Regions from separate parts of the Homo sapiens genome. Here region 2 is linked to region 1. Evidence: fine-mapped expression QTL. A gene starts in region 1. The other region holds a variant in brackets. All regions are shown on one strand. Distances are between the middles of the regions.

Region 1 (12,612 bases):
GGCCATCCAAAGTGTTGGGATTACAGGCATGAGCCATTATGTTCGGCCAGGAATTCCATTTTAATACCATGGTTAAACACATAGAAATGAAGTTTGTAAACATATACTAAGGCTTAGATTTGAATACAGATAGATATCCTCAGTGCAAGGACTATGGGAGCTGAAAATAATCTCACCTATTATTTTCAGGTGAGATTTGAGGTTAAATAAAAAGTGCAAAGTGAGTTTCCCTCTGGTATTGTTTGCCAATATTATCCCACTCAGTCCAATCCTAGCAAGCTCATTCAGGCTCATGAGAGAGGTAGTTGAAATCAAGAACTTACTTTTGACATCTGGAAATCTTAGTGGTGGGGGCTGGCAGATGAAGAGAGAAATATAGGTGCCTTCTACTACAGAAGTATTTCATTTATCAAAAGGTTGTGGATAGGAATAGACGGCCTCAGCCTCAGAAGGGGAGGTAGGCTGCTATGGTGAGGGTCTGGGTTCAGAAACAAACTGTATTTCACGTCCCAGTTCTATCAATTATTTGCTATAGGACTTTCAACAAATTGCCTAATCTAATCCAGCCTCATCTGTAATATGTAAGGTCCATGAGGGCAGGGACCATATCTGTGCTGTTATTATCATACATCAAGTGCTTAAGAAGCCTGGTATTCAGAGCCAAATCAAATAATTGTAGAAGGAATGTGTTAAAAAATGAGCAGCCTTTGACATTTAGAAGCTGGTCTGGTACTTGCAGCTATGCCATAATATTTTCCTATTAGACAGAAATAATTTCACAGAATACTAAACTCAGACAAGATTACTCTGAAACCATGATAAAATGAGGCAAAGAAGGTCACTTCATAATTTTGTCTAAGCACAGACCAAAATAAGTTCACTATGCCACCCACAAAATACCAAACATTCCCTTTCTTCACCAAAATGAGTGACTGCTACTTCTTTGCTAATTGCAGCTTTATCCTCCTGCTTCCCTTTGTGTAAATAAGATTTACTGAGACATCCAATCACAGAATTGCCCCTGCTTTCTGACAGCATCCAATCTATAGAAAAACCTCTATTTTCTTAGGGCCTCCCCGAAAACACCCGCCCAAAGCCCCAATCCTATGATAGGTTTGTTCTAAACACCCTCTTACTGAGATACCCAAAGGGTATCCATGGTGAGTGTCTGGGCTCACTTCGAAGAGTAATAAATAGACAGAAGCTGCTTAACTACAGCTGTGTTCCTAGTGGTGTTTGGTTGAGGGCATAGGCAGTGTGAATAGAAAAAACGGGGAGAAAAACACTGTCTCTTCAGAGTTGTGGTGGGTATTAAATGGATAATTAATTTACCAATATATATTGAGGGTCTGTTTTGTGTCAGCTGCTGTGCTAGGTGCACCAAGAAGAACAAGACCCGAATTGCTCTCCAGGGTTTTGAAACTGCTGGGCATGCAGAGTAGAAAATTTATGATCCAATTCAAAGCACTATTATAGAGGCATATACCTCGTATAAAGGTGTTATCATAGAACCATATATACAGAAGGAGCATGTAACTCCTCTGGCCCTTAGGGACCGAAGGAGTCAGAAAAGAGAGGATGTATGGTGGACAGGATAATGGCTCTGCAAAGATGTCCTATTCCCTGAAATCTGTGAATATATTACCTAACATGGCAAACGAACTTTACAGATGTGATTAAATTTCTTGAGATGGAGAGATTATTCTGGATTATTTGGTTGGGCCCAGTGAAATCACAAGTGTCCTTGTAAGAGGGGTGCGGGGGGGTGGGGGTGAGAAAAGGAGACTCTGACTGCAAAATGATGTGGGACCACAAGCCAAGGAATGTGGGCAGCGTGTAGAAGTTGGAAAGGGCCAGGGAATGGATTTTCTCCTGGAGCCTCCAGAGTCAGCCCTCACCATCTATTTAGACCTGTAGCTTCCAGAACTGGAAGAGAACAAATTTGTGTTTTCTAAGCCAACTAAATCAGTGATAATTTGTTAGAGCAGCACTAGGAAACTAATTCAGGCTTAATCTTTAGTGCCGAGTCCCGGGTAGAAGCAAAGGAAGACTATTTTCTGTGAGGACCTGCCAGTTGGTCTTCATGGCTTGCGAGTACGTGTGCTTGGGAGTAGGACAGGATATGTGGAGATCAGATCCTGAAAGGTCTTCTTTCCACACAAAGAAACTGGAAATAATGCTGAAGGTAATCAGAGGCCACTGAAGGATTAAAAGCAGGGGAGTGTGACAAAATCAGAACTGCATTTCAGAAGGATGAATTGAAGTCTACAAGTAGAGACAACAGACGAGAGGCTACTTAAGTATTCTGGGCAAGAAATGATGAGAGGCTGTCTCTGATCACCCTCTACAAAACGCCTTTGCTTATTCCTTGAAATTTGGGATGAGAGGATTTAGAAAAAAAAATGGTTGTACTCTTCAAATATTTGAAAGGCTGTCATGAGACAGATTAGACACGGTCTGTGCTGCTCCAAGTTTGAGGGATAAATCAGTCATAAGAAGATATTAAATGCACTATCCGGAAGCACATAATTAATAATTTGTCTAAAAATCGCATAGACTTCTTCACAGATAATTATGCTTTACATTTCATTCTTTCAACAAATAATCATTTGAGCAGTTAGCATGTGGCAGGCATCAGGCCTGTATATGACGGTGAACCAAACAGACAAAAGGCACTGCCCTGGATGGAGTTTCTTTGCATAAGGTACCGTTTACAGATAACTTTTATATAAAATAATCATTTAATCAAGAAGCAAGCTCACAGTCGGGATAGCTGAAAAGAGACTAATATACGGGCGAGGTTGGTTTGGAGTAAACCCTGGCCTGGGAAAATCGAGACGATAACTGAAAAGCAGTCACTGACGGCAAATGAGCCCCTGGGACTTCTCTCCGCGAGCTTTCCCAGCCACCAGGCCGCTCCCATCACCCTTCCGCCCGTCGGTGCCGCCCCTTTCCTCGTCCCCACCCCGTCCCTTTTAATACGTCACTCGGGCCGCGGGATTTCGAGCATTTCGCTCGCGAGATCTTCTCTGTGGCGGAGACAGCCAGGTTGGCAGCTGACGGGACAGCCGGGGTCTATTTTGTTGCGGGTTTTCAGCAAATCCAGGGCTGGTCTGGAGGCGCGAAGTAGGTTCCGGAGTCCGAGACCTGGGCTGTCGGCCGCGGGCCCCTGAGTAGCGGATGGGGCGGGCTCCCCGGCCTCGGGGCCGTGCTCAGTCTGCGTGAGCGCCGCGTGCCCGGAACCCGTGTGCGGTCGCGCCCCGGGGTTGGGGGTCGGCGTGGGTGGCCCTCGGGCGCCGGGACGCCGTCCGGAGACTCCTGTGGCGTGGGTCTGAGGCGCGGTGGTCCGGTGCGGTCCCTGGGCTGGTGGAGAGCGGGAGGGCCCGGGCGTCCACAATCCCGAGCTGACCTCGCCCTTGGTCGTCCAGGGTTGGAGCCCAGGTGAGATGGAGGTCAGCGGCAGAGCTGGGTGGCCCGAGGGTCTTGCAGCTGGGAAGCTCAGGAAATCCCATGGTCCTCATCTTAAAGTTCTTTTTAACGAACTTACCCAGTGGAGTTGGGTTTCCTTCTTTCCTGCTTTTTCGAAGTTCTGTGAATATATTAATTATTCAGAGAGACTGGAGGAAGACGTAAAAAGAGGAGACTAGGTAAAGTGATTTAAATCCCAACATTCTCTTTTTTTTTTTTTTTTTTTTTTTTTTTTTTAAAAGAACTTAAGGCATACAGAACGATGGAGTATATGGCAGAATCCACCGACCGCAGCCCTGGACACATGTGAGTGCGACACTTCTTCCTTCCCCCTTAAATGTGAAAATCTTCAGTGAGCCCGGGAAACTCACTATGGAGAACGCTTGAGGGTGGGTGGGAAAGAGCGTATATTGTCATAAATGGGAAAAAATAGAAGTCTTATTTCTGTAGAAAATCGAATTAGTTTCTGGTTATAAAGCTTGTTCTAGTAAATATAAGCTCTAAGAGGGTTAAAATATTTACCATACATCCTTTTAGATCGGCACTGTCCAATATGTAGCCATTAGCTACGTGTGGCTATTTAAATTTACTTTTTACTTACTTTTTTTTTTTGAGACGGAATCTCGCTCTGTTGCCCAGGCTGGAGTGCAGTAGTGTGATCTCGGCTCACTGCAACCTCCACCTCCCGGGTTCAAGCAATTCCCTGCCTCAGCCTCCCGAGTAGCTCGGATGACTTCCTGATTTTTATTGGAGATTATAATGTAGTAATTTTTAAATTTTGAACATCTTAAATCTTAGTTATCAATTTTTAATTTCTTGCATTTAAGTTCAAATTAACTTTTTTTTTTTTGCTGTTAAATAGGTTTAATGATACAGTGCTCTTCAAAGAGATTACTACAGAGACTTTTAAACGATAATCCTGGAATCGTTCAGCACAGACCAATTAGCTAAATCTAAAATAAATTGGCTTCTTACCACAACTACCCTGTAAACATTGTAGTCCTTCTGTCTAGAATGACCCTAATCTCACAGGAAAACAGTAACTATGGAGAAACTAGCTTTGTGGCCAAAAGTAAAAACCAAAGGAAAAATAGGAATTCAGTGGTTAGTGAAAGCAGGAAATTTGGCCCCCTTCCCTGTGATGCTTTACTCTTCCCTTGTCCATCAGTTAGCTCAGTGGGTTTGAATAAGCCATCTGAAAATGTCTTTGGAGCTCAGCATAGTGCTGATCTTCCTTGTTCTATCAGTAGCTTTTAACAGACACTTGTCTAAGGGCTCAAAGCCCTTCACAGAACCCTTTCTTGGAATGGGTTGTTTGACCATTATACTTCCCTCCGGACAACCAGCACTTCTGGAAGAGCCTGGTTAGCTCTGTCAGGAACTGCTTTCTTTCCAGGTGGTACCGCTGGCTCCACTCTGTCAACATAAACCCCAAGCAGTTTAAGTTGGAAGTTTCCTAAATTAATTTAAATGGAATAAAATTAAATACTTGGTTGCTCGTTTGTACTAGCCATGTTGCCACATGTGGCTAGTGGCTACCATTGGACATGGAAGATTATTGAACTTTTATTTTGGACAATGTTGTTCTACATTAGGGGTTCTCAGACTTTTTCTGCCCCCAGTACATCTCGAATTATGATAGTTCCGTCATTTATACTGAGTCTCTAGATGTTGATAGACTTCCTATACTGTTAAAAAAAAAATTCTGCTATGGGTAAATGTTTATATTTCAGCAGTCCTTATGCTTTTTTTTTTTAATTGCCTTTGGAGTATATTGGCGTCTGATTCTGTTAGAAATGATTTAGATATTAGTTTCTATTGGTGTAGTCCAGAGATATACTTGAAGAAATGTTCATTAGAGATAAGTAGACAGCTGTAGTCTTTTAATGTAGTGACACCATACTGTTCACCTAAGCTATGGTCCTCTGTATGCCCTGAATAAATAGATTTTTGAAGACTTAGTATTTAGAGATGAGGTGGTTGAATTAAAAAGAGACAAACTGATCTTACATATTCTTGATACAGGATTTTCTTTTTGGTTTTTGCCATTGACACACTATTGCCTTGTTAATTGATTCTTTCTTGGTTTTCCAATTTTCAACAAGGGATAATGAATAACAGTGCTTCTCAAATTTTTCCCAAGTTTGCTATTACACTTGTGGTTGGGAAGTTTATCTGTTTATTTGTAAAAGTTAATGTGAATGTTTGTGTCTGCATAGAAAATGTTTGGAAGGATATATACAAATTATTAATAAATGTTATCTTTATGGATAGTGTTGGTTGGGTGTGGTAAAGAGCACGTTAACATTTTTAATTATATTTCAGTATCTAAAATTAAAATTAGTGCAAGATTTGTATTCTTCATCAATATACCTCCATTTGTTTTAATGTGACAATATAGTTTCATTTGCTTTTAATAAAAAAGACTTGTTTAGACCCATACTGGCTATTTAAATGTAAATTTGAATTAAAAAAATAAATTGAGTTTCTCAGTTGTACTAGTCACTTTTCATGTCCCAGTTGCCACATGTGGCTAGTGGCTACCTTGTTGTACAGACCAGAATAGAACATTTCTGTCGTGGCATGAAATTCTGTTGGACAGTACTGACCTTCTAGAACCTTTAGGACATCGGCCTTATATTGAGGATTTTTAGAATTATAGCCATTTTTGGTGTTTTTGCCCCTGTATTACAGGGTTATTCTTTATCTACTGCATCTTTGAAGATTGCTTTGTTTCTTTTTTTTGTTTCTTTTTTTTGAGACATTGTCTTGGTCTGTCACCCAGGCTGGAGTGCAGTGGCGTGATCTGGCTCACTGCAACTTCCACCTCCTGGGTTTGATATGCATGCCTCAGCCTCCCAAGTAGCTGGGATTACAGGCGTGCGCCACCATGCCTGGCTAATTTTTGTATTTTTAGTAGAGATGGGGTTTCACCATGTTGGCGAGGCTGGTCTTGAACTCCTTATCTCAGGTGATCTACCCGCCTCAGCCTCCCAAAGTGCTGGAATTACAGGTGTGAGCCACTGGCTGGCCCAGGTTGCTTTGTTTCTGTTATTTTTTTGAAAAGGGCAAAGATGCTGTGGCCTAACTTGAAGGCTTTTGTTTGTTTGGCATCTAAAAAAAAATTTAGTGTATTTTAAAAATCTAATGTGAAAAATTTATCCTTTATTTATTAAAGCTTGTGCTGTGAGTGTGGTGTTCCGATAAGTCCAAATCCTGCCAATATTTGTGTGGCCTGTTTGCGAAGTAAAGTGGACATCAGCCAAGGTATTCCGAAACAAGTCTCGATTTCGTTCTGCAAACAATGTCAAAGGTACAGTGCGGTACAATTTTGCTCTTTTTAAAGTTGGAATTTACATTTAGAGAACCACCGAGATATGCTGAGATTACACGAAGGTATATGGAGTAAAGTGCATGCAATTAAGGTTTAAATTTTCTGTTGGTGTCGCCAAAGATTTTAGAATTTGCAATTTTATAGTGTACTTTTCTAGTGTGTCCTTCTAATCTGGTAAAGATAGTGTAAATGTATTTGAATCTGTTCTTCTGTTAAAGGATCTAATAGATTTGATGTATATAGTTAATAGGAGTTGATGTTTGTAAGGGTGAGAGCAGATTATTGAGGACATATTGTTATTATGAGGTTTTTTTTTCTTTAGTTATTAGAAGCCATGTATGATAAAAAGCTTATGTTTGGAGTAATTTAGTAATATGTTTTAAAAACTCATAACATTCACGTGTAATTAAAATAACTATTGTTGATGGAAAAGAAGCTCAATAAATTATATCTGGAATGGTCTGAAATAAAGATTGGATTTGAAGGAAGAAGACTTCTTCTGAATGTTAATGTTTCATTCCTCTTGATTTTCTTTGTCAGCATAAACAACTTACATCTATTAGGCCATTGAGTAACACAAAACTGCCTAATGAGTGTAAAAGTGTATGCCTGTTATTTCCAAAATGGATTAAGACGCTAACTTTTTGAGTGTGTATCTCTAGAGGGGTGGTTCATGGACTCCTTTGAGAATTTGAAAACTGTATCTCTTCCCCAAAATATTTACATACATGTATATATATGTGTGTGTGTGTGTATATATGTAAAAATATATATGTGTGTGTGTGTATATATACATATATATACACAAACACATGAAACTGTGTACTGTTTCAGGGAGTTTACAGTGTATAAGCTTAGCAAGTGTGAGGCTTAATCTTTTATAAATATTTGCTATTAAAAGCCTGGTGGAGTTAGAAAAGTACTGATAAAGAACTAAACAGACTTAGTTTGTCTTGGCTTCCTCACAAACTAGCTGTTTGAAACTCTTAGCTGTTTATCATCTCTGGGCCTCAATTTCCTCATCAGAATGAAGGGTTTTATTAGGTGATATGTGAAGCCCTTTCTAACTCTAAACGTTTACTCATAGGCCAGGCTTGGTGGCTCACGCCTGTAATCCAAGCACTTGAGGAGGCTGAGGCGGGTGGATCACCTGAGGTCAGGAGTTCGAGACCAGACTGGCCAACATGGTGAAACCCTGTCTCTACTAAAAATACAAAAATTAGCCAGGCGTGGTGGGGCACGCATGTAATCCTAGCTACTCGAGAGGCAGGAGAATCGCTTGAACCCGAGAGGCAGAGGTTGCAGTGAGCCGAGATCATACACTGCACTCCATCCTGGGGGATGGAGCGAGACTCTGTCTCAAAAGAAAAAAGGAAAAAAAAATACGAAATAAATATGTACTTATAAACAAAGGGAGACCTGTGTAATGTTTTTGATTGAACCTTGAAAAGTGAAAGTCAAAACTTTCTGTTATGTAACAAGTATGGCAAAAAGACATTCACATAACATGTTTGGAAGTATTTTATATTTAGCAAGCATTTATTGAACACCTACTATAAGATGTATGTGGCATAGTGCTAAGTCCTGGGTAGGCAGGACTAAAAACCTTAAAGCACATATGTAAGAGATTTAAGTTTTGTTTTAGTCTGGTTTTACCCAAGATTTTAAATGTTGTTTTACAATTTACAATTTGAAAAGGACTTGAAATGTAGATGAATAGACTGAACTATTGCTGATTTATAGTGTTGTGAGGTACTAATGTACCTTTTTTTTGTGAAAAATAAGCAGTTCTCAGGCATTTTAGAAGTACATAATAAACCATTTTAATGCCATTTTGAGATGATTCTCACCTGTTTTTCAGAGCATAGCTTTAAGAGACTCTTGGACATTTTAGTGGTGATTTGGTGATTAAAGTAATAAGATCACTTTAGTAGGTTATTTCAGATTGACTTTCTCAGTCAGAATTTTACCTTTTTAATTAAAGCTGCTAGTCTAGTTGAAAGTTTTGGAACCATTAAAATATGTTTGAGTTAAGTGCTTCATATCATCCTTGGGTTTTATTATGCCTGGTTAATAATTTGGGTTATATCTGTGTATTCAGATGGAAATTTCTGTGTTTCCTGACAGATGTTGGATTTCAGTATGTTATCTTCTCTTTTAGGTATTTTCAACCACCAGGAACTTGGATACAGTGTGCTTTAGAATCCAGGGAACTTCTTGCTTTGTGCTTGAAAAAAATCAAAGCCCCTCTGAGTAAGGTAAGTTAAACAGCTAAAATCAGTATTCATAGGTATGTTTTCATTAAAGGTCTCATTTTCAGAAAATTCTTGTGAGTAGGTTTTTCAAAAGGAATTTTTTTTTTTTTTTTTTTTTTTGAGGTGGGGTCTTGAACTGTCACCTGGGCTAGGCTAGAGTACAATGGTGTGATCTCGGCTCACTGCAACCTCTGCCTCCCGGGTTCACACGATTCTCCTGCCTCAGCCTCCCAAGTAGCTGGGATTATAGGCGCACACCACCACATCTGGCTAATTTTTTGTATTTTTAGTAGAGACAGGGTTTCACTATGTTGGCCAGATTGGTCTCGAACTCCTGACCTCGTGATCTGCCTGCCTCGGCCTCCCAAAGTGCTGGGATTACAGGCGTGAGCCACCATGCTGGCCTCGAAAGTAACTATTAAATGTTACTATTGTTGCCAGTAGCACCCCACTACAAACACTTTTTAAAGTTATATATATTCTTTTTATGAAAAGTAAAAATATCTTTTTGCTTTAAAAAGACAGAATTTAATTTTTTTCCTTTGTTATTTATCGAGAATCTCATGTATAATTTTTTAACGGAAATTTTTATGTAAAACCATCACTAAACATAATTGGGATTATAATATTAGGGCTATGTTATTTGGTTTCTTTTTATTGTCATTATTGATCTGGAAATAAAATATTTGTGCCTGTCACTGAAAGTCAGTGCATAAATGTATTAAAAAAAATAGTTTGTTTAAAGTACAGTTTATTTCCTGATATAAAATTGAAAGTGATTGACACTATGAGTTTTCTTTATTTTAAGCTTTATGACTCACTTCTACCATGTTTTTAATTGAAATTGACTCTTTCAGATTGAAGACTTTTCTGATTCTCCTTTAAGCTCTAATAAAATTTCATGTAATAGTTCTTTGAAATTTCTGCCTTTATTTTCCTACTAGGTCCCAGCCAACCCCACAAATTTCTGATGGTCACTTTTTGGCGCTTCTGGCATAAAACTTTGTCTTTTTCCCTTCATATTTTAAAAAACCTTTTTGGTTTTTTTCGCTCCCCTCTGTTCTTGGTGATTTTTACTTTATCTTCTAATCTTTCTAATGAATTGTTTTTTTCCAGTAGTAATGTTTTTAAGTTCCAGAGTCTTTCATGTTCTTGATGCATTTTTTTTAAGTTTTTCTGAAGATTTTGATAATAGGACTTTTTTTGTTTCTTTCTGTTCCCTCATTTGTCTCTGTTTTTTTATGAAGTCAGTTTTTTGTGTGTCTTGGTTTTTTGCTTTTATACTTGGGGTTTTTGTCAAATGTCTAGTGAGTCTTAACAGTTCATTAATTAATTCATCAGATGTTTATTAAGTACCAACTCTGTGCCAAACTGCTTTTGGTGTTGGGGATATGGCAGTGAATAAGGCAATCCCTGTCTTAGAAAGCGTGTATTCTAATTGCACACTAACATGCCAGTGTGGAGCAGCATGTTAGTATGCAGCGATCAAAATAGGTGGATATATTACATGGTATATTAAAAGGTATATTCTGTGGAGAAAGGAGCTAGGAAGAGGATAAGAACTGTGCATGGAAGAGTTGAAATTTAAAGTAAGGGTGTTTAGGGGAGGGCTCACTGATAGGGTGACATTTGAGTAAACACTAAAGATTACAGTAAGGGAGGAAGCTGTGCAGAAATGTGGAGGAAGAGCATTAGGGGTAAAGAAAACAAATGTAGAGACCAAAAGCAAGAGCATACTTGTGTGAATAGAACGGAGTGGTGAGGGGAAAAGTAGTTGGGGATAGAGTCCAGAAAAGTCATGGAAGGCCACAGTGTGTCTGGCCTTGTAGGCCCTTATAGGGGCTGTTTCTTACTCTGAGTGTAAGGAGTATAGAGGGTGAAGGGCAGAGTAGTGAGATGACATGACTTATTAGTATTCCTCTGGCTGCTGTTTTTAGAATGGTTGTAAGGGAGGTAAAGGTGTTTAAGTTTTTGTAATAATCATGAGAAATGGTTTTGGATCAGCAATGGAGGTGGTAAGAAGTGGACAGATTTTGGATCTATTTTTAAGGTAGTAACATTTACTGATGTAGCTGGATGTGTTTTTGTAAGAGACAGAAGAGTTAAGGATGCCTTCCACTGTTCGTGACCTGAGCAGCCAAGTCACTGGGTAGGGGGCATGAGAGTTCATCTGTAACTGGTATTTAGATGTCTACTAGACACTTAAGTAGAAATACTGAGTAGGCAGGTTGATAAATAAGCCAATGAGTGGTCCAGTCTAGAGATAATGAATTTAGGATATAGATAGTATTTAAGGTCATGAATTGGATTAGATTATTTCAGGAGTTTACATAGAGAAGGAAAGAAACTGGAGGACTGAATCCTGGAATCATTCCTTTAATGGGTAATGATGAAGAAATAATTGGGTAATGAGGAGGAATCAGCAAAGGAGACTGAAAGGAGCTGCTAGGAGGTAGGAGGAAAACAGGGTGAGTGTGATGTCCTGGGAGGAAAGGGAAGTGTTTTAAGAAGAAAGGAGTGAGTAGCTATGTGATTTGCAGCTGATGAGTCAAGTAATGAGTTCTGTAGATTTAGTAATGTGGACGACCTTAATAACATGGGCAATTTCTGTTTAGTGGTGGTGGTAAAGATGTCATTTAAATAGAAATTAAAATGGGAGAAGGAAGATAGACAGTTCTTTTGAGATTTGCTGTAAACGAAAACAAAGAAATGGGGCAGTGGTTGAAGGGGAAGTTGGGGAAGGGACACTTGTCTTTTTATGTTATTTTATTTTTTGGAGATAAGGTCTTGCTTTATTGCTCAGGCTAGAGTGCAGTGGCGCTGTCATGTCTCACTGCAGCCTCAAACTCCTGGGCTCAGGTGATCCTTCTGCCTCAGCCTCCTAAGTAGTTGGTACTACAAACATGCACCACCACACCTGGCTGATTTTTATTTTTACTAGAGGTGAGATCTCTCTCTTTCTCTCTCTTTTTGGCCCTGTAGAGCAGAGATCTCACAATATACCCAGACTGGTGTTGAACTCCTGAGCTCAAGCGATCCTCCTGCCTCAGCTTCCCAAAGTGTTGGGATTACAAGCATGAGCCACTGTGCTTGGCCAGGATACATTTCTTAAGATGGTATATATAACTGTATTTGTAAGCTCTCTGGGAGTGTTAGAGTACGGAGGGAAATTTTTGTGAAATTGCAGGGAGAAGAATAATTGGCTGGGGGGTGGCCTCAATAAGTGGAAAAGAGATATAGTACATAGTGAAAGAATACATTTATTTGTTAATTCACTCCTTCATTCAACAAGTATTCAGCACTTACTCTTCACCAAGCACCATTTTGGGAGGCTGTAATATTTCATGGAACAAAGTAAAGATCTCTGCTCTCTAGAGGGGCATTCTGGAGGTTGATCTTGATGGGAGTATGGATAATTCATCTGTGGTAACAGCAGGGAAGGTGTTGAGTGGGAGCTTCTGGGAATTCTCCTCTGGTTCCTTCTTTTGTACTGGAGAAAACAGAAGCGTGGGCAGTAGCTATGTGGGAAGAGCTGTTAGATAGATGTTTGAGGAG
Region 2 (10,356 bases), 120 kb after region 1:
CACCAAGATGTGGCATCTATTTCTTCACACGCTCATGAAGTTAGTGGATCATTACCTTTGATTTATTGGAAAGTCTGAAGCTCTCGTCTGTAAGAAGGAACTATTTCTCTTACTCTTTTGCCCTGAATTATTTTCTCCTTCCCTAATCAAGAATTTTATCAAATTTTTCTTTACTTTTCTAACTACTCAAGAACATCACCTAGAAGTGATAATATTAAGACTTTCATATGAAAAGCAAGTTAGTCTAATTATAATAGCACTGAACTGCATTTTTATATATAATGTGAGGTTTTCTTTGAGTTTTGGGGAGGGATGGTTAACTCTGTTTACTGAAAGATATATTTAGAGGTCCAAGTAATATAACCAATTGGCAAGGGAGAATATATTAGAGAATAAACTGATTTTAATTGCTAATTTTAATGTGGCTAATTGCTGTTCATCCTCTAAGATGTAACTCAGGCATCGCTTCATGTAGGAAGAATTCTCTGAATTTCCTCATCCCCATCCAAAAGCACTAGGTAGGCAAACCAGGATCTACGGTCATCCTATATAATGCTCTGTCTAAATCTCAAAGTGCTTACCACATTGATTGATGTCCTATAATCACACAGAATCAGTGAATGATAGAATGCAGAAAAAGGTGTGGTATAGTGATGGTTTATGTGGACATGTAGAAGGTGCCATTCCTTCCAATGGTTAAACACTTCACCTCTGCAGCCTCAGTTCAAATCTCAGCTCCCTTACTAACTGTGTAACCTTGAGCAAGTCACTTAAACAATCTGTGCCTCAGCTTTCCCCATCTGTAGAATGAGGATAATGATATCTATTTAACAGGATTGTTGAGAGAGTTAAATGAATTACATATGCAAAATGCTTAGAAGAGCACCTGATGCATAGTATACGTGCCGTATAAATATTAGCTATTTATTGTTATGGCATGTAGTTGGCCTAATAGAAGAGGTAGAATTTGAACTGAAGTTGAAGAATAAGTGTATCTGAGTATATAGAGACAAGCTGCCAGTATGTGTGTACACATTTCTATGTGGCTGTAAAGATTAGCAGTTACAGTGTTGTAAGTAGGTGTTTTCATTTTATGTCTACAGGTTTCCAGCCACTGCACTGGGTTAGGAAAGTAATTCTACAGTTTTTGACCCAGCAGAACTTAGAGTCCACTTCCCTTCTACTGATCTCATGATAGACACTGATATGTTCATAATGGCATTCTTTCCAACGAGCAGGTATAGCTTCAAAGTTCTTCACAACATGACCTTCTAGGGTGGCCCTGCCAGTGATCACAAGAGCCGATAAGAGAAAAACACACACACTATTCCCAGAGGAGTCATTCTTTTCACAGCAGAGAAACTGGATCCCAGAGAAGTGAAGTCACTTGTCCAAGGCCACACACAGGCAGCCAGAGCAAGAAGAACTGGGGTCACTCTACCCTCTGAGGGGTGATTATCTTTCCATCGTCCATATCACTTGTTTATCTCAGTTTCTAACTAAAATTTTCTGCCACAAATATTTGCAAACTATTCATCTGACAAAAGTCTAATATGTAGAATCTCTAAGGAACTTAAACAACTCAACAAGAAAAAAAAAACCCATTAACAAGGGGGCAAATGACATGAACAGACATTTCTCAAAAGAAGACCTACAAGTGACCAACAAAAATATGAAAAAATGCTCATCATCACTAATCATCAGAGAAATGCAGATTAAAACCACAGTGAGATACCATCTCACACCAATTGGAATGGCTATTATTAAAAACTCAAAAAATGACAGATGTTGGTCAGGATAAGGAGAAAAGAGAATGTTTACACATTGTTGGTGGGAATGTAAATGAGTTCAGTCTCTGTGGAATAGATTGGAGTATTCTCAAAGACCTAAAAATAGAACTGCCATTTGATCCAGCAATCCCATTACTGGGTATGTACCCGAAGGAAAATGAATCATTCTACCAAAAAGACACATGCACTCATGTATTTATTGCAGCACCATTCACAATGGCAAAGTTATAGAATCAACCTAGATACCCATCAATGGTGGACTGGATAAAGAAGATGTGGTACCTATGCACCATGGAAAACTACGAAGCCGTAAAAAGTAATGAAATTATGTCCTTTGCAGTAACATGAATGTAGCTGGAGGCCATTATCCTAAATGAATTAATGCAGGAACAGAAAATCAAATATTACATGTTCTCACTTATCTGTGGGAGCTAAACAAGGGGTATACACAGACATAAAGAGAGAAAAAATAGACACAGGAGACTTCAAAAGAAGAGAAGGAGGGAGGGGGGCAAGAGTTGTAAAACTACCTTTTGGGTACTACGTTCACTGTTTGGGTTCAATACAAGCACAAAAAGCACATTATGCAATCTATTCATTATATCCTTATGTCTGTGTAACCAACCTGCATATGTACCCCCTAAATCTTAAACAAACAAACAAACAGCAACAAAAAAAACCCACACCAGTGCTGGAGCCAGGTCTGGGTCCAAATAAGTTTGTTAAAAAAAAGTTCTGCCACCAATTATATTGGTACAGGCTTAGATGGTGGAAGCATATATACGTATACACAAATATATATGTGTATGTATATATGTATGTATATATTAAATTATGTATGTGTGTATAGATATATCACATTGAATACATATAACTGCAAGTAATTAAAAACAAAAGGAAGCAAGGTACATTCATTGATCCATGAGGTGCCCTATTGTGATATTATTGTGAAATGCATAAAGCTTTGCATGCTCTGCAGTAGTGCTGATGGTACTATCTATCTGGCTTAACCAAATTATTGTGACACGATCTTGTACTCAGGTTGCAAATGAAAGCGCTCCACCAAGCTCCTCAGCAGCAGACTGAGTGTCCTTTAGAGCTTCATGCCCATAAGCATAATTTGTGATATTTTACTGCTCTTAAATGATGCATGATGAAATGATTGAAGACATCATTATGTGGAACAAAATGCACTGGGGAGTGTGATGCTAACTATTAAGCACTTCAAGCTTCTATGGGAGTGTTGAGTACTTTTACTGAAAAACAGTAAGGAAGCGCTGTTTGTTATGATCAAGACTGTATCTAGAGAAAGAGCAGTGCCTTAATCATATATAGACATGTTCGGCAAGCCTGGCAAGTGGGAGGGAGTAAGAGGAGTACGCAGCTTGATGCTGGATTTTAGTGATTTAATCAGCATTCACTAAAAGACTGTTAAAGTGGTTCCCAATCTTGGCCAAATATTAGAATTATCTGGGGAATTTTAAAAACTACTATTTGGGCACTCCCTTCTGAGGGTTTCAATTTAGTTTGAAAATTTAGTCAGGGCCAGGCATTGGTAGTTTTTAAAGCTCCCAGACGATTCTAATGTACAGCCAGAGCTGAGAACCAATGGTCTAGTACTTGAGGAGAAAACAGTTGTAGATCTTTACAGATGCATCAATGAACTTTTAAAAAAATGTCCTCCCTTTTTAAAAAATGCTCACATGGGGATTGTTGTGAGAATATAGGAGCAGGAGAGAAGGAATAATGGGTAAAGAGAATACAGGAGAGGGACAAATGTCTCTCAAAACCTTCACCAGATGTTTAAAAACTCACCTTAGGTGAGTGACTTCATAAAAATGCTAGTGACAAATCATGTCTGGAATATGACTCAATGTCTCTACTCTGGAGTTGTAAAAGGGCTTGATTTGTTCATCAATCCATTCGTTTAGTGAGCTTTTATAAGAGTACATGGTGCAAAAAACAATGTGCTGTGTTCTTTGTGCTCTTCAGAAGGAACACCTGCACAATTCTGAGGCAACCAACACCTGAAAGGTACAGAATATGCACATGTGGGTGGTGGACTTCCCTTTTTCCCTCTTTGGAGCCAGGTACTTTCTCTGGCTCAGGTAAATATAACTCAGGACTGGGAGGAAGGTATTGCATTTGCATGGTAAGGTGCGAGAGATAAGCAGGGTTTCAGGGGGTTACATTTTGATAGTGTAAGAGCCAAGGGAAAATGTCCGCTTTGCCCTCTGAAGGTTCACTGAAAAATCAACTGACAAAAGGGAGATTAATAGGAGAAATGGCACACAAATTTATTAATGTGCATGGAGAAGAATGATAGAATGATTACCCCAACACCCCAATGGGGGTACAGATGCTTATATGCCATCTTGAGTTTACAGAAAGAATGGAGGACTTGGATCATGGCCCAAAACAGGTTATGGTGGTAAATCATGCCTCTGTCCCATCCACTCTTACACCATAGCCAGTGCCATCATCTTACAGTATAAATGACATCACATTCCTTGCACATCACCCCCCTGCTTAGTGTCCCTCAATTAGAGACGTTTGAATCCTGCTCTACTGCAGCTGGAAGAGCTATGTTCCCTTTGCCCCAAGGACTTCATCATCCCCAACCACCTGTCGCTGTCTCTCTAGCACACTAGTGTTTTCTTTTTAAACTTTATCACAATTCATAAATATTTTGCTTGCTTGTATTTTTGTTGTTGTTGTCGTTATCTTGCCTACCAGATACTATCATTAATAACTCCAGAGATGTTTCTGCTTCTGTCTCATTCATTTTCATTTTCTAGTACCAAGCCCAAAGACTAGCACATGGTAGGCTTTTATTCCCTATGTATTTTTTTAAAAGTTTCAAACATAATGTTAACAGAATTTGACAATTAATGCCTGTATACCTAGCATCTAGTTTCTATTGTTATGTTTTCCTCATCACATATTTTTTCATTTTTCCATCCTTGTATCTACCCATCAATACATGGTTGACTTTTAATAAATTTATTGAATGAATGAATAAGTGTTACTCTTTTAGTCCATAGTCAGGAGCTGTCCATCTTTTGGTTGGCCTAATACAGACACTGAGCTTCTTTGTTTTTGTGTGGTCACAAGGTAGAAGGAGCTATATAATGTCCTCGTGGGTGGGAATTTGCTAAGCCCTGTATCAGGAGATTCAGAAATAAGGACAAATCTGCCTTCTAGAATCACCCCAGTAAGAGGATCTAAATATATTTGTGATGGAAGAAGAAAAAAATAGGAAATGTGGATGAGTGTTTTTTTTCCACAAACAACTTAATGAAGATTGGTTAGTCCTATCTTGATATTTAAACTGCCTGATATCTTGACATTTTGTGTTTTTTGTTGCACAAGCAGATAAAAGTAACTGTTGACTTGGCCAATACCAGGGAAAGAACATTTTACAATTTCTCGTTCGGTGAGTGACAAATGCAAGCTCACCGGAGCCATGGAACCTTTGGCCTTTCTTGTTTTTAAAGTTCTGTACACATCATTGAAATATCCAAGTAATGGAAGCAAAGGAAAAACACACAAAAAGTGTTTCTAATCTAGGCAAACTGGGGTCAAGGTAAAGAATGTCTCTCTCCATGTCTAGAAAATAAACTTAGCAGGCAGGGAAAGTAATGCTTACTCTTCTTTCCCACTACATGCTGATTGATAGGTTTTTTTTCCCAAACTATTTTTGATTATGTTTTTTGGACCCTGTATTTATTATTTTGACTGCTCAGAAGAAACACCTTCGAAGTGACATCCTGGGGTGGTGCTTTGCAATAATCTTTTATTAAGCTTTGCTGTGTCTATTCATGTTTATTTTAACTCTCTTATTTTTAGATGGAGGATTTTTTGAGAAGGTCAATGCAGTATCTTTGTGATTGAATTCCAGGAGTACTTAGCAGGGGTCCATGTATATAAGGGTGTTGAATCATTATGAACTGGGAATGCATCCAAGTTCATGCTTAACTGAGAATTCTCTTTAAATATTTAGAAGTGAAAGCAATCTTTCAAAATAGTCATGTGGGCCTTGGAAGCATAGAAATGGGTGAACACAGCATCCTAGGTACAGCAGCAAAGGTGACAGCTGGGACCTCAGCTTATCATTCCTCCAACCTTGGCTGTCTCCTAACGCTCTTCCTTCTATTTGATGGAGTTCTACTTTCAAACGTTGGTGACACTCATCCCATCAACTTTCATCTGTTCATTTTGTCCTCCCCTGGGCTTTCGTGTGCAAAATATTTGCAGGGCCCGGTGTGGTCCTGACCTGGATTTGCATCCTTGCTATGCTACTAGTAGCTACTAGTAGCTAATCGACCTTGAACAAGAAATGTAACTTTTTCAAGTTCCAGGCTCTTTACCTGTAAGTAGGAGACCTTTATACCTACTCCAACATGGAAAATGTGTCCAGCATGGAGAAGTCCCTTGATAAATGTTAGGTTTTTGTTACCGTTTTAACACCAGTTACCACATTGGATTACTAAAAAATGATAAGCTGGGGAGAAATATGCAATGTAACATCTAGATATTTAGTGCAATATGAATAAAAAGTAAATCTGGAAGTAGATATTTACTTACAAAATTAATTTTATTTTGCAAAACTCAACAAATACATGTTCAGATCTGGTTTCTCTTCAAAACATGTGTTTGTTTTTTTAACAAACATGCAAGTTAATTTGGCATGCCAAACATCTTTCTCTCTAGCTC[A/G]CCTTGGAAAAATTTTTTTCATAACACAAACAAGGGTGCAAATATTGTCCAAACCTATTTACATTTTTACCCTCTAGAATTACATACATTAATATTTATTGGGAGGAAAGCAAAACTGCAAAACGTAGTCTTTGGCATTCACATTTGCTTCAGCAGTATAATTAAAACCTTATATTTGTTTTAAAGATAAACAGTTTGAAGGAAATTTAATAAATCTTGTTTTGGCTCTGCAAAGGAGCCACTATATCAAAGCATTTAACTGGAGCTGTTGAGTTCCTGCTGGTAGAATATTACTTCCAGCCTATTTATTAGCTTGTCTTCCGGTGGCCCAATACATGCTTTTTTCCCTCTACACTGAATGAAAGTACAAAAAGAAAACCATTTCTTTTCTCTTTTTCCCCCAGCATCATGCAAGGCAAGGCAACACCACAAATACAATAACTGAATTTACTTTGATTATACTTTAGTTTCTTACACTTAAAATTATTTTGTATTATAATACTTACTTGGTTATCTAAAATCAACATTGTTGATTTTAAACGGTTATAAAGCCAGACTTTAAGAAGCATTTAAAACAATTCATGAACTCTGTATGAAAGGAAATAATTGCCTCCAGCTTATTCTTTTGCATTTGAAGTAAAAGAATTTCCAGTATCATCAGTTTACTAGAAAATAAGACTTAGGGGGTCCATATAATTTATTCACATCTTTTTATACATCGTAAACAAGGATAGGATACTTCTGACAGTAGCCTATAAAGATTTTTTAAAATTTATCCTTTAGTATAGAATAAGTGTCAAGGGAGCACTTTAAGCATGATTCTGGTAGGTCTGTTAGGAGTCTATTTTCCAGAAAAATTTTGTAGGAAATTGTTCTGATTTTAAATAAACTAAATTCATAGATTTGTGTTGACAGAATATGATTTGTGAGGTAAAGTCACTGTATTATCTCCGGTCTAAAGCACAATGTAGCATGTGCAAAAGAAACTAAAGAGACATGTATTTCAAACTCCAGGCAGAAAGGCAGAATATAAGAGTGCATAGAGAAGAGAGTGCTTTTCAGGTCAGATAGTGAAGGAAGACACAATAGTTACCTAAATCAATAAGCTGTAAGCAACATATAAATATGCAATGCCATTTCACTGAATGTGAACAGGATCAATTAGAAATTGTACTGTGATATCCACATATTTTTGAGAAAAATTCCCAAGCCAGGCGAATGTGGATTGGAATAAAGACATAGGCAGTGTATACCACCATAGCAATAATGGTTAGTAAGATGGTGTTAAACATAGATCGCTCCCAGGGCTCTAAAACAGCACAGCAGCTAATGATTTGGTATTGATAGTAGAGCCAGGAGAAATATTCCTTCACACGCCTCAAATCCATGGTTGGCTCCTTCAAGCTGCAGTAAGTTTGTCCTGTTAAAGAATGTAACAGATTAGAGGATGAGGAACCAAACATAGAATCACTTTAAAATTTCATGATCTCAGCATGTTAAAATCTTTCAAAGATTTGTTAAAGATCATTGAATATATTATTAATATATGAATATTCTGTAAAATAATACATACTATATTAACTATAAAAATTAATAATATTGTCACCACTACTAATAATCACTACTAAAATTGGCAGCAATAATACTATTAGTAACAGTAACATCTATCTAAACATGACAATTGTTAGAAATAACTTTAGTGATAATGGTACCTAAAAATTGAGGTTAGCCTCATTTTCCTGAGCCATGTATACAAAGAGAAATAAAAGTGAACCTAAGCACAGCTCTGAGGAAGAGACTTTTGAGATAAGGTCCAAGGGATCATTATGAGTCAAATGGATAGAATAGACAGTGAAGTAGGGAGAACAGCCAAGACAGAGGGAACAATATGTACAAAGGTTGGAGGTGGGAAGAAGTAGGTTGCTTTTGAGGGGCCACGGAGGGAGAAGGGAGCAGGGAGTGTGATGACACTGAAGAGGTGGGAATGGCCACAGTGAGGCCAGAAGCTGTAGGGCCTAGTTGGATAAGTTAACTGTTTTATCTTCAACCTCTGAGTTAGGGCAATGCTGTGGTGGGTTTGAGAGGAGGAGGCTTTAAGTTCATGTGGTAATGCTGCATTCTGGAGTCAAGTTGAAATGACTTTGGAGCCCAAGTATTTCAGAAAATCTGTACCTCTACTCTTCCCTAGGGCATTACTGTTTCAGAATCAACAGTATACTGAGAACCTGTTTAAAATATTCTTAAATACTCTTCATTTTTACAAATGAGATAATATTGCTTATTTAGAAATATTATTAACTTTTCTCTATATGTTGTGGCTATTTATTTATTTATTTGTTTTTGAGAGAGTCTCACTCTGCTGCTTAGGCTAGAATATAGTGGCACAATCTTCGCTCACTACAACTTCCACCTCCCAGGTTCAAGAGATTCTCCTGCCTCAGTCTCCTGAGTAGTTGGGATTACAGGCATGCACCACCATGCCCGGCTAATTTTTTTTTGCATTTTTAGTAGAGATGGGGTTTCACCATGTTGGCCAGGCTGGTCTTGAACTCCTGACCACAGGTGATCTGCCCGCCTCAGCCTCTCAAAGTGCTGGGATGACAGGCATAAGCCACTGTACCCGAACTTGTTGTGGCTTTTACAAATGCACTAATTGTCGGGCTCGGTGGCTCACGCCTGTAATCCCAAAACTTTGGGAGGCCAAGGCAGGCGGATCATCTGGGGCCTGGAGTTTGAGACCCGCCTGGCCAACATGGTGAAACCCTGTCTGTACTAAAAATACAAAAAATTAGCTGGGCATGGTGGTGGGCACCTGTAATCCCAGCCGCTGGGGAGGCTGAGGCAGGAGAATCACTTGAACCTGGGAGACCTGGGAGGCAGAGGCTGCAGTGAGTCGAGATCTTGCCATTGCACTCCAGCCTGGGCAAAAATTCTGTCTCAAAAAACAAACAAACTGCACTAATTAAGTGATGAGTAATGTGGTTAGGAGAATTCATTCATTCACCGAATGAATACATTTTAAGTATTACCATGTGGCTCCTTCTGAATATTAATGGCTTCGGAAAGACTTTATTCTCAAAGGCATCACAGTCAGGAGATGCTCTTCCAGGAAGCAGCAAACTGGACCATGTAACAAACATGCAGTGATCGAGGGCCCAGGAATGAGCACTAAGTGGGAGGAAAGGACATGGAAAAATGCTAAGGCATGGTGGGGCAGGACAATAGTCTCAGGTACTAGAGAGGCTGAGGCCAAGGGGGAAGGATCCCTTTGGTCTAGGACTTCAAGTCCAGCCTGAGCAACATAGTGAGATCCTGGCAAAACAAAACAAAACAAAACAAAACAAAACAAAACAAAACAAAACAAAACACTCTAAATTAAAAAAAATGCATTGATTAATTTCCCGGCTATTGCTTTCTCTATTAAAATTAGAATTCCTTGCTTGGGCAGCCCTAGCCAACACCTTAATGATGGCCTTGAGAAAGACCCTGAGCCAGAGGCATCCAGCTAATCTGTATCCAGATTCCTGAGCCATAGAAACTTCAAGATAATTAATGTCTATTGTTTAAAACCGCTAAAAGTCAAACAATCAATCAATGAATAAAAGAAACAGCAGATAAAAAGCACACCAACATGTATAGCACCAACAGTGGATACATGGTAAGATCTTGATCACAAATACCCCAAATCTGCAATGACTTTAAATCTGGCTGTTTTAAATATACTTCTGCACTGCTAACCATTTAAGCAGTTAAGATTAAAAAAATTTTTTTTTTGCCAGTTACCACAATCTCAGCCCTCTAAGTAGCCAGAACTGACATGTGAAAAGTGTCTCTTGAAAACACTGATTGT

The links. PIP is the estimated chance that this variant, and not a neighbour inherited with it, causes the effect.
Region 2: its variant is fine-mapped to the expression of NMD3 in whole blood (INTERVAL, PIP 0.91).

The regions. Positions count from the first base shown.
Region 1 is chr3:161,218,284-161,230,895 of GRCh38, forward strand. It overlaps NMD3 (NMD3 ribosome export adaptor), which reads left to right and starts at 3,028. Exons shown (of 16, transcript NM_015938.5): 1 at 3,028-3,126; 2 at 3,711-3,774; 3 at 6,647-6,781; 4 at 8,964-9,060. The coding sequence starts at 3,731. It also overlaps the pseudogene SRP14P5. RefSeq lists enhancers at 2,601-2,710, 2,770-3,271 and a silencer at 3,191-3,390.
Region 2 is chr3:161,338,430-161,348,785 of GRCh38, forward strand. It overlaps SPTSSB (serine palmitoyltransferase small subunit B), which reads right to left. Exons shown (of 3, transcript NM_001040100.2): 3 at 6,369-7,926. The coding sequence starts at 7,894. The coding sequence ends at 7,664. Among named protein-coding and RNA genes, the nearest start is that of SPTSSB, 28 kb to the right of the region's middle. The variant A/G (reference allele first, on the strand shown) is at 6,507.